2 separate regions of the Homo sapiens genome follow, and region 2 is linked to region 1. Evidence: fine-mapped expression QTL. A gene starts in region 1. The other region holds a variant in brackets. All regions are shown on one strand. Distances are from middle to middle. Region 1 holds the start of EFHC2 (EF-hand domain containing 2). Region 2 overlaps EFHC2 (EF-hand domain containing 2).

Region 1 (4,000 bases):
ACAGAAAGGTTCATAGGTAGAGTTGTCACATAAAATACAAGATTCTCAGTTAAATTTGGTAAACAATAAATAATCCTTTCCCATAAACAGGTTCCATGCAGTATTTGAGATATGTATTTTTATTCGCTAAATCTGGCAACCCCAGTCAAGGGTGGTATTTTTGGAGAACAGGTCATATTTTATTTTATTTATTTTTTTGAGACAGGGTCTGGCTCTGTTGCCCAGGCTGGAGTGCAGTAATGCAATCATGGCTCACTGCAGCCTCGACCTCCCAGGCTCAAATGATTCTCCCACCTCAGCCTCCTGAGTAGCTGGGACTACAGGCATGTGCCACCACGCTTGGCTAATTTTTTCAATCTTTTGTAGAGATGAGGTCTTACTATATTGCCCAGGCTGGTCTCGAACTCCTGGGCTCAAGGGATCCTCCCATCTCTGCTTCCCAAAGTGCTGGGATTACAGGCGTGAGCCACTGCGCCCAGCCCCCATATTTAATTTCTTGATATTCATTTTGTGATCATCCATTGTGCATCTTTCTGTATATGTGTTGTACTTCATGATCTTAAAGTTTTTTAAAAAGCAAAAATATACGCAGAACCTTGCAGATTTATTAATATTTCATCCATCCACTGTTTTTCCTTCCCATCCTTAATCACTGCACGTGAGAGCTATGATACTTCTGCAGGAGGCAGGCACTGGTAATCAGAGTGTTGCTGGGCAAAAAGCTGTAGGCTTTACTTTCATTTTTTATTAAAATTACTTTTACACAGCATGCTTCTTTACTTCTGGAATCTGTTTTCATGTCCCGTCTCTCAGGGGCCTTTCTTGTTTGCGTGACTGGCTTAAACTTACCAAAGGGCAATGCTATGCTGGAAGGCCAGCCTCTGCCCATCAACCAAGAAATGCACAAATCAGTGTTCAAAGTTGGACTGACCAGACGTGTAGGGGTCAGAATTCAATGGCGTGAAGCTACAAAGAAAAAACTTGTACTTCAGGGCCAACAACTTAGATACAGACAGTGTTTGGAAACCATAAAGCCAAATACTTCAATCTGCTGCCTGCTTTCTAAAGTTATCAAAGGTTTACACAATTGCCTTGAGTGGCTCCATCTAATTCCCTCCCATCTAATTGGGAATTAGCTTCTCCTGCAGACACAGATGGCTGACCCAAGTGAAGGGTAGTAACCAGTATAAACAAAAGCCTGAATCATTTTCCTGCTGTCGTTTAAATGAGGTGCTATTTATTGGCAAAAGTTCTTTCATGCTCAGGGTTTTTTGTGTTGTGTTGCTTTGTTCTGTACGTTCATCTTCTTTTGAAATGAACCCCTCCAGGACAGGCGCAGTGGCTCAGCCTGTAATCCCAGCACTTTGGGAGACCGAGGCGGGCAGATCACTTGAGGTCAGGAGTCCGAGGCCAGCCTGGCCAACATGGTGAAACCCCATCTTTACTAAAAATACAAAAATTAGCCGGTGTGGTGGCGGGCGCCTGTAATCCCAGCTACTCGGGAGGCTGAGGCAGGAGAATCGCTTGAACCTGGGAGGTGGAGGTTGCAGTGAGCCGAGATCGGGTCACTGCACTCCAGCCTGGGCGACAGAGCGAGACTCCGTCTCAAAAAAAAAAAAAGAAATGAACCCCTCCCAATTATAAATAGAGAAAAAAAAAATCCCTCCAAGTTTGGGTGCCTGTCTCTATAAAGTTTGGGAGTAAACTTTACAGGCTGATAGAACTCTTATCTGCCACCTACCCCTCTTGATAAGTGCCAGATTTCTTCAATTTGATAATTGAAACGGTATCTTTTTTCACACAGGATACTGGGGATAATGATTAGGCTCCTGAGCTGTGGAGACAAGGTTGCTTGAAAGAAACCCAGCTTCACCACTGAGACTGTGTGGTTCTGTGCCTCAGTTTCCTCAATAGTAACTGGGAATAAAAACTACCTAATTCAAAGGGCTGTTGGGACACTGGATGCTGCATAAGGTGATTAAAGCACAGCGCCTGGCACACATTAAACCCCCAATGGTTATCGTCACTATTATTTGTTACCTTTGAGGGTCCTGCCACCTATAAGGACTCTCTCTATATATTTCTAAATTAGGAAAAACATTCAGATGCAGCTGGAGAGATGGGAGAAGCAGCCTATAAAGTTTGGTCCAAGTTGCCACCAACCCAGGGCAGCAGCATGGGGCCTCCAGGAGAGTCTGCGGAGGTGGCCACGCCACGACCCTGCCTGGACCCCAGACTCCAGCCGGGAGCTGTGACCTCGGACGCCCTTCCTACTCACGTTGCGGTTGAAGCTGTTGCCCGGCAGCAGAGGCAGGGCCATGGCGCTCAGTGTCCGAAAATCCAGGGTCCCAGAAGAGAGGGCCCGGCAGGCAGCGGCGCCTCCCGGCCGTGTTGTTTGGCCCCCACGTTGCCTGGAGACGGGAAGCGGCGTCACGGAGGGAGGAGGGGCGGGGGGTTGGCGAGAAGGATCGTGGGGGGCGGGGGACACCTCCGCGGCGCGTACCTCCTCCCCAGCCCCAGTTCCCCTCCACCCGCTTCATCCCCGCACACACTCAGCCAGGTCCTGGTCTCCTGAGGAGTCTTCTCTCTGCACACGCAGTGTGCACACACAAAGATTGACTGTTCCCTGCCCCCGCCGCTTTCTGGTTTAACCCCCTTATAGAACTCAAAGCCTTTCTTGTACTTTCTTGCTTTTCCAATTCTTGTCGCCAACAGTTTTTTGCTATGTGGTTCAAACACACAGCAAAGTACAGAAAGTAATATGACGCCCGTGTGCTCACTGAGATGTTACACAAGTCGATATTTTCCTATGTTGCATAGACATCAGCTTTTATTTTGTAATTAAAACGTTCAAGATGAATCTAAAGCCACATATACCCTGACGAAAACGCGTTGTAATGGTAACCACCGCCTTCAGTTTTTCTTCTGGATATTTTTATATTTGTTGTTTGTTTGTTTGTTTGTTGTTTTAAGACAAGGTCTCACTATGTTGCCCAGGCCGATCTCGAACTCCTGGGCTCAAGCAGCCCTCCCGCCTCTGCCTCCCAAAGTGCTGGGATTACAGGTATGAGCCACCGTGTCCGGCCCATTTTTGTATTTGAACTAAACGTTTGTAAGGCCCAATCAGGGGTGGCCGGGGCGGAGTCAGGTGTCACAAATCGCAACCCCTGTCACTCCATCGTTCACCCCAAGATAGCCGGGCCAGGAACCTCCTCTCCCGACACCTACGTCTAATCCCTCCCTGAAGCCCTAAAGGTTGGACTCGATGCTCTCTCTCAGTCACCACCTCGTCTATTTCAGCTGCGATCCCATTGTTTCTTGCCTGGTTTTCTTCTTTAAAAAGAAAAACAAACACACACAAAAAACTAACTGATCTTGCCTCCAGAGCCGTCGTTTTTATAATTCATGGTGCAGCTGTTACTCTTCTGCTTCAATAATCTAGCCTTCCCGCCGCCTTCAGAAGGTGGTGAAACTCCTTATAGCCTGGTCTGAGGAGCTTTTGTCAGAGGGCACCTACCAATGCCCTCCATCCCTTTCTTTGCCCCCTCCTCCATCTACTCCAGCTCTGAGAAACCACTGGCAGTTTCTAAATCAGGCTCTGCGGTTTCTCCTCTTGGGGCTTTTGCAAATAACACTATCGTCTAGAAACACCCTTCCTTCCTATCTTTCACATAAGTAACCCCTTCTTGTCTTTCAGGACTTGAGGCCAGCGTGGGAGTGGGGCATAGAAGGTATTGCCATTTCTTCAATATATTCTTTCACCTTCTTCCTGCCGCCTCCATCTGTATTTGGTGTCTATTCTGATCGTGGCTTTCATCCTACTACATTGTAATTACCTGTTTACTTGACATTTCTTTAAATGCCCCCAAATACCTCCAGGGCAGGGACTGTATCTCCTTTTTTATTCATCAACAATATCCATTATTGCTTCTGTGTTTATAAATTTTACACTCTAAATTTCTGCTACTTGCTTTTTTTGCCTGATTCTGTTATTGAGGCC
Region 2 (4,529 bases), 33 kb before region 1:
ACTTTGTCTCAAAAAAAAAAAAAAATTTTGTTTCGTTCTGAAATTAATATTTGAATGGAAACTGTATGAATAACTCATGGTTTCCTACTGAAGTTTAAGATTCCCCTAGATAATACTCAGATTTAGACAATGCTAGAATAAGACACTGGGTGATTATTTTAAAGTATGAACTACAGGTAAAATCTAAAAGGACATACATAATAAAAAATTTCTGATTTAAAAGACATAGTAAATATAAATGAATTAACTCACACAACGTACTTACACACAAACAAAACTAGAATAAACAACAACTTGTAGGAACCACCTCTAGTTGATTTCACCACTTAACAGGAGCAAGATCTTAGGTTGGTCATTTTGTTTAAGGATGACTTGAAGTTTTACAATACTACCTTAGCTCCCACATATAAGTGCTTTTAAAGCATTATCTCATTTAATTTAATCATAGCACATAAAAAAGACCTCAATAAAAAGAGACATATTCTTGTATTAAAAGAAAAAAAAAAGAAAAAAAAACTCTTCAATAGTTTTTTCTTATCAACTAGAAATTGGGGAAAATATAGTGAGAAATAAAATGGAACGGCTTCTCACACATATGAAGGCCCAGATCACGCCTAAATTTCTAGTGATTTAACTTAAGAAGCTCCTTGCCCTGAGAGATTCCTTTATCCCACAACACTCTACTCAGAGGGGGCAGAGAATCCCAGGACACTACCCAAGCCGCAGGATAAAAACACAACCTGTCTTCTATCTGGCACCAACAGACTAGTATCTATCTAAACACAGGACTGACTTTAAAGTTGGTTAACGAGTATTTTAATTCACTAAAATAAAACTTAGAAATTACATGCTTAGTCTACACAAGTTTAACTTACTTTAGTCACTTAGTGAATTGTGAATTGGCTCCCATTAGTGGTCAGGAGAATGCTTTGTATTTGGTGTAGAAACCAAATAAATCAAGCTATTATCGCCTTGTGAGTACAAACAATGTTTATTTGTTTGTAAAGTGCCAGTTTTATATTTAAGTAAACATTGAAATCTGCGCTGAAGCAGTGAGGCTGCATCTTTCAACTTTCAACTCCCTGTGCTGGTTAAATGACTGTTTAATCCTGCTGTGCCAAGCTCACTAGAGGGTCAACCCTCACTTTAAAGCCAAGACTGCCATTGTCACTGCTATAGTAAGTCACAGCCAGCCAGGCCTGCTGGCAAAAGGTGATACTACCAGCATTATAAATAAACAGGACTGGTTGTGAGGTAGCTACACAGTTTTAAAGATGCTGTTAATGAACATTATGGACAATTCATGGTGTGGCTAGTTGATAATACTTCAGCTGATTTTTTTTATGAGATGGAAAAAAATCAGCAAAATAAGGGCACATCTTCAGTTCATTTAGAAGTCAGCATTTAAGGTAAAAGAATTCTCTTTTGGACTTGACACCACTCCCATCCTCTGATACTCGCCTACTCTCCTCTCAAAGAAGTTAGTCTTTCAGTGAAATATTCTCCGTAAAGTCAAATGGGCTCTCTACTCCGAAAACCTTGCTAAAACCCAGTTCCAGCATAAGTCTGTCTGCCACAAACTCAATGTATTGCTTCATTAGAGTGCAATTCATCCCAATGAGCTTCACAGGCAAGGCCTCGGTGAGGAATTCTTGTTCTATCTGAACAGCATTGATAATTATTTCTCTCACTTTCTCCTCCGATGGTTTGTGTACCAGGTGTTTGAACATCAAGCAAGCAAAATCACAGTGTAAACCCTCTTCTCTGCTAATAAGTTCATTGGAAAACGTGAGGCCAGGCATCGGTCCTCGTTTCTTGAGCCAGAATATCGATGCAAAAGAACCAGAAAAGAAGATGCCTTCTACTGCAGCAAAGGCTACAACACGTTCACCATAGGTAGCCTCTTTGTCCCCAATCCAGCGCAAGGCCCAATCTGCCTTCTTCTTGACACAAGGCATCGTTCAATGGCATTGAAGAGAAATTCCCTTTCTTTGGGATCTTTGATGTAAGTGTCAATAAGGAGACTATACATTTCAGAATGTATGTTTTCCATGGCAATTTGGAAGCCATAGAAACAGCGGGCTTCTGTAATCTGAACTATTTGGCTAAATCGCTCCACCAAATTTTCATTTA[T/C]TATGCCATCACTTGCTGCAAAGAAAACCAGAACATGGGATATAAAATATCTCTCCTCGGGCTTCAGGGATTCCCAGTGCCGAATGTCCTTGGACAGGTCCACCTCCTCGGTGGTCCAGAAGGAAGCCTCCGCCTTCTCATACATCTGCCAGATATCATGGTACTCGATGGGGAAGATGACAAAGCGGCAAGGGTTTCCTCTCAGCAGCGGCTCATCCTCCACGCCGGGGGCAGCTGCTTTAGTTTTCGGCTCGCGGGCTCCTGGAAGATCCTCCATGCAGTCTTGCTGGCCAGAACCCGGGTCCCGCTCAGGGCCGGCGGCCTGTTCACCTTGTCGACCAGGCTGAGCCCCTTCAGCGGCGAGAGCTGCAGCTGCTGCGGGTCCGTAATGTGCAGCAGCGGGACGCGGACGGAGAGCATGGTGGTAGCGCGGCAAAGGAGAGTGAGGGGCCGGGACCGGGCGGCTGGGATGGGGTGCACTGAAAATGTCTCATTTTTAAGACAAATGATTAACAAGTGTTGACTTGTTTTTGTTGAACCGCTAATGTAGAAAGCGCTTTATAATTTGCTTGGGGTATTAACCAGGATCTAGTCTGTAGTTCACAGTCTCATCAGAGCACGTAAATATTTCAGTCTTAGTGTCTCATTTAAAGCTCAATGAATATTTAATAGAAGTTGACCAACAAAATAACTGAAAGAATTATGTTGCATTTAGTTAGCCCTGAAATGAGCAAGCTCTTCGTTTACTCAAGTAGTCTGAAGCTAAAATTATTCCAGATTCATGAAATATTCTACATAAGTAATTAAAGGCCTGCAAAATAGGCTTGAAAGGCACATATTAAATATTGAGAAAAACATGAAATGACTTTTCGACTTGAAATGCAAGAGAATAGTTTAATATTAATACATTGTGGCCTACGATACTTATTCAGTAGTGGATTAGTTTAAAATATTGTCGATACCCTCTATTTTACATGAGGTAAAAATAGAATCTTTTCTTTGGCCCATGCAAAGTAAACATCCTATAAGATTGAGAGTAACAGAAAACTATGCATAATCCACCCAAGTCAGTCAGCCCAGAATTGTTTTTGAGCTTTGGGTCCAGCACTGAGCCAGGTACTGAAAATAATCCAAGAAAAGAATATTGGCCCATGTTGAAAGGAGAAATGGTTTCCCAGGAAGGAAGCCTCCCTGTGGTCTGTTAGATCACTATAAGTGTCAGAACTAGGCTTCAAAAAAAAATGTGCACTCTAATTGATCTACCCTATCACAGATGACATGGGGATGTGTCAATTTGAGGACATTTTAATTAGAATCAAAGTACTGCCAACCAATCCATGTTAAAAGCTGCTAAAAACCACCTGGTAAACTTAGCATGCTATGGTTTCAATTCTTTATCTAGTCCTGAACTATCTTTCAATTACAGGATCTAAAATAATCTAATAACTAGTTCTTTCTGGAGAACAGAACATTGGGCTGTGATACAGGGCTATCTGATAAACACAGCATATCCATATAGCTGGTCGCCTTTTCTTTCCTCTGATCTTAGCCTTTTTAAAAAATATTCAAATACATTCCTTTTTCTAACTGCCAATATGTCCATATGTATATGTGTGTGTATGTGTATAGACATATACATTAAAAAATTCCAACTCTTGTCTAATAATGGCATCACTTCCTTTCACTATTCTTCTTGCCACATCACATTTTAGCCCTTAGGGATGGGGAATCATTACTACGGTTTATTACTAATTAGTATGGAGAAAAGAAGAGAAGGCATTTTTCTATTCCTATTTAAAGCCACATTCAGACTCAAACACAATTATTTAGTCAATGGCAACTCAAAAGCAAAAGTGACAATCTGACGAGACTCTTAGTTTCTATAGGACAGATTATCCTGTCCAGTGAAGGAGATGAGAGAAAGGTTAATAAGCATTAGCCAAGAAAGATAAACATTTGGCATTCTGCAACCAATGTGCCTGATAAAAAAGAGCAGAGCAAGAATGATTTTTCTTTGTTTAGGATACTTTTGTTCTTGAATTTATCTTTTCAGAAGAACTAACCTTAGTCAAAAGAAGCAAAATTTCACTTAGGAGGAATACGTTTAAGAGATCTATTGTATAACACAATGACTATAGCTAATAACAATGTATTGTATATTTGAAAATTGTAAGACAATAGTGTTTTCATCACAAAAAAAGAGAAGCACATGAGGTAACGCATATGTTAATTAGCTCAATTTAGCCATTCCATAGTGTATACATATTTCAAAACATCATGTTGTACACCATAAATATATACAATTATGTTTGTCAATTTAAACAAATAAAGACAAAGGGAGAAACACTAAAAATAAAACACTAAAAATAAAGGCAATAATAAGTAGAAAAGGCAAA

What was found. PIP is the estimated chance that this variant, and not a neighbour inherited with it, causes the effect.
Region 2: its variant is the best candidate, but not a certain one, in a credible set for the expression of EFHC2 in blood mononuclear cells (TOPMed, PIP 0.82).

Annotation. Positions count from the first base shown.
Region 1 is chrX:44,341,269-44,345,268 of GRCh38, forward strand. It overlaps EFHC2 (EF-hand domain containing 2), which reads right to left and starts at 2,404. Exons shown (of 15, transcript NM_025184.4): 1 at 2,279-2,404. The coding sequence starts at 2,320.
Region 2 is chrX:44,307,924-44,312,452 of GRCh38, forward strand. The region is part of intron 2 of EFHC2 (EF-hand domain containing 2); the gene reads right to left. It also overlaps the pseudogene RRM2P3. Among named protein-coding and RNA genes, the nearest start is that of EFHC2, 33 kb to the right of the region's middle. The variant T/C (reference allele first, on the strand shown) is at 2,134.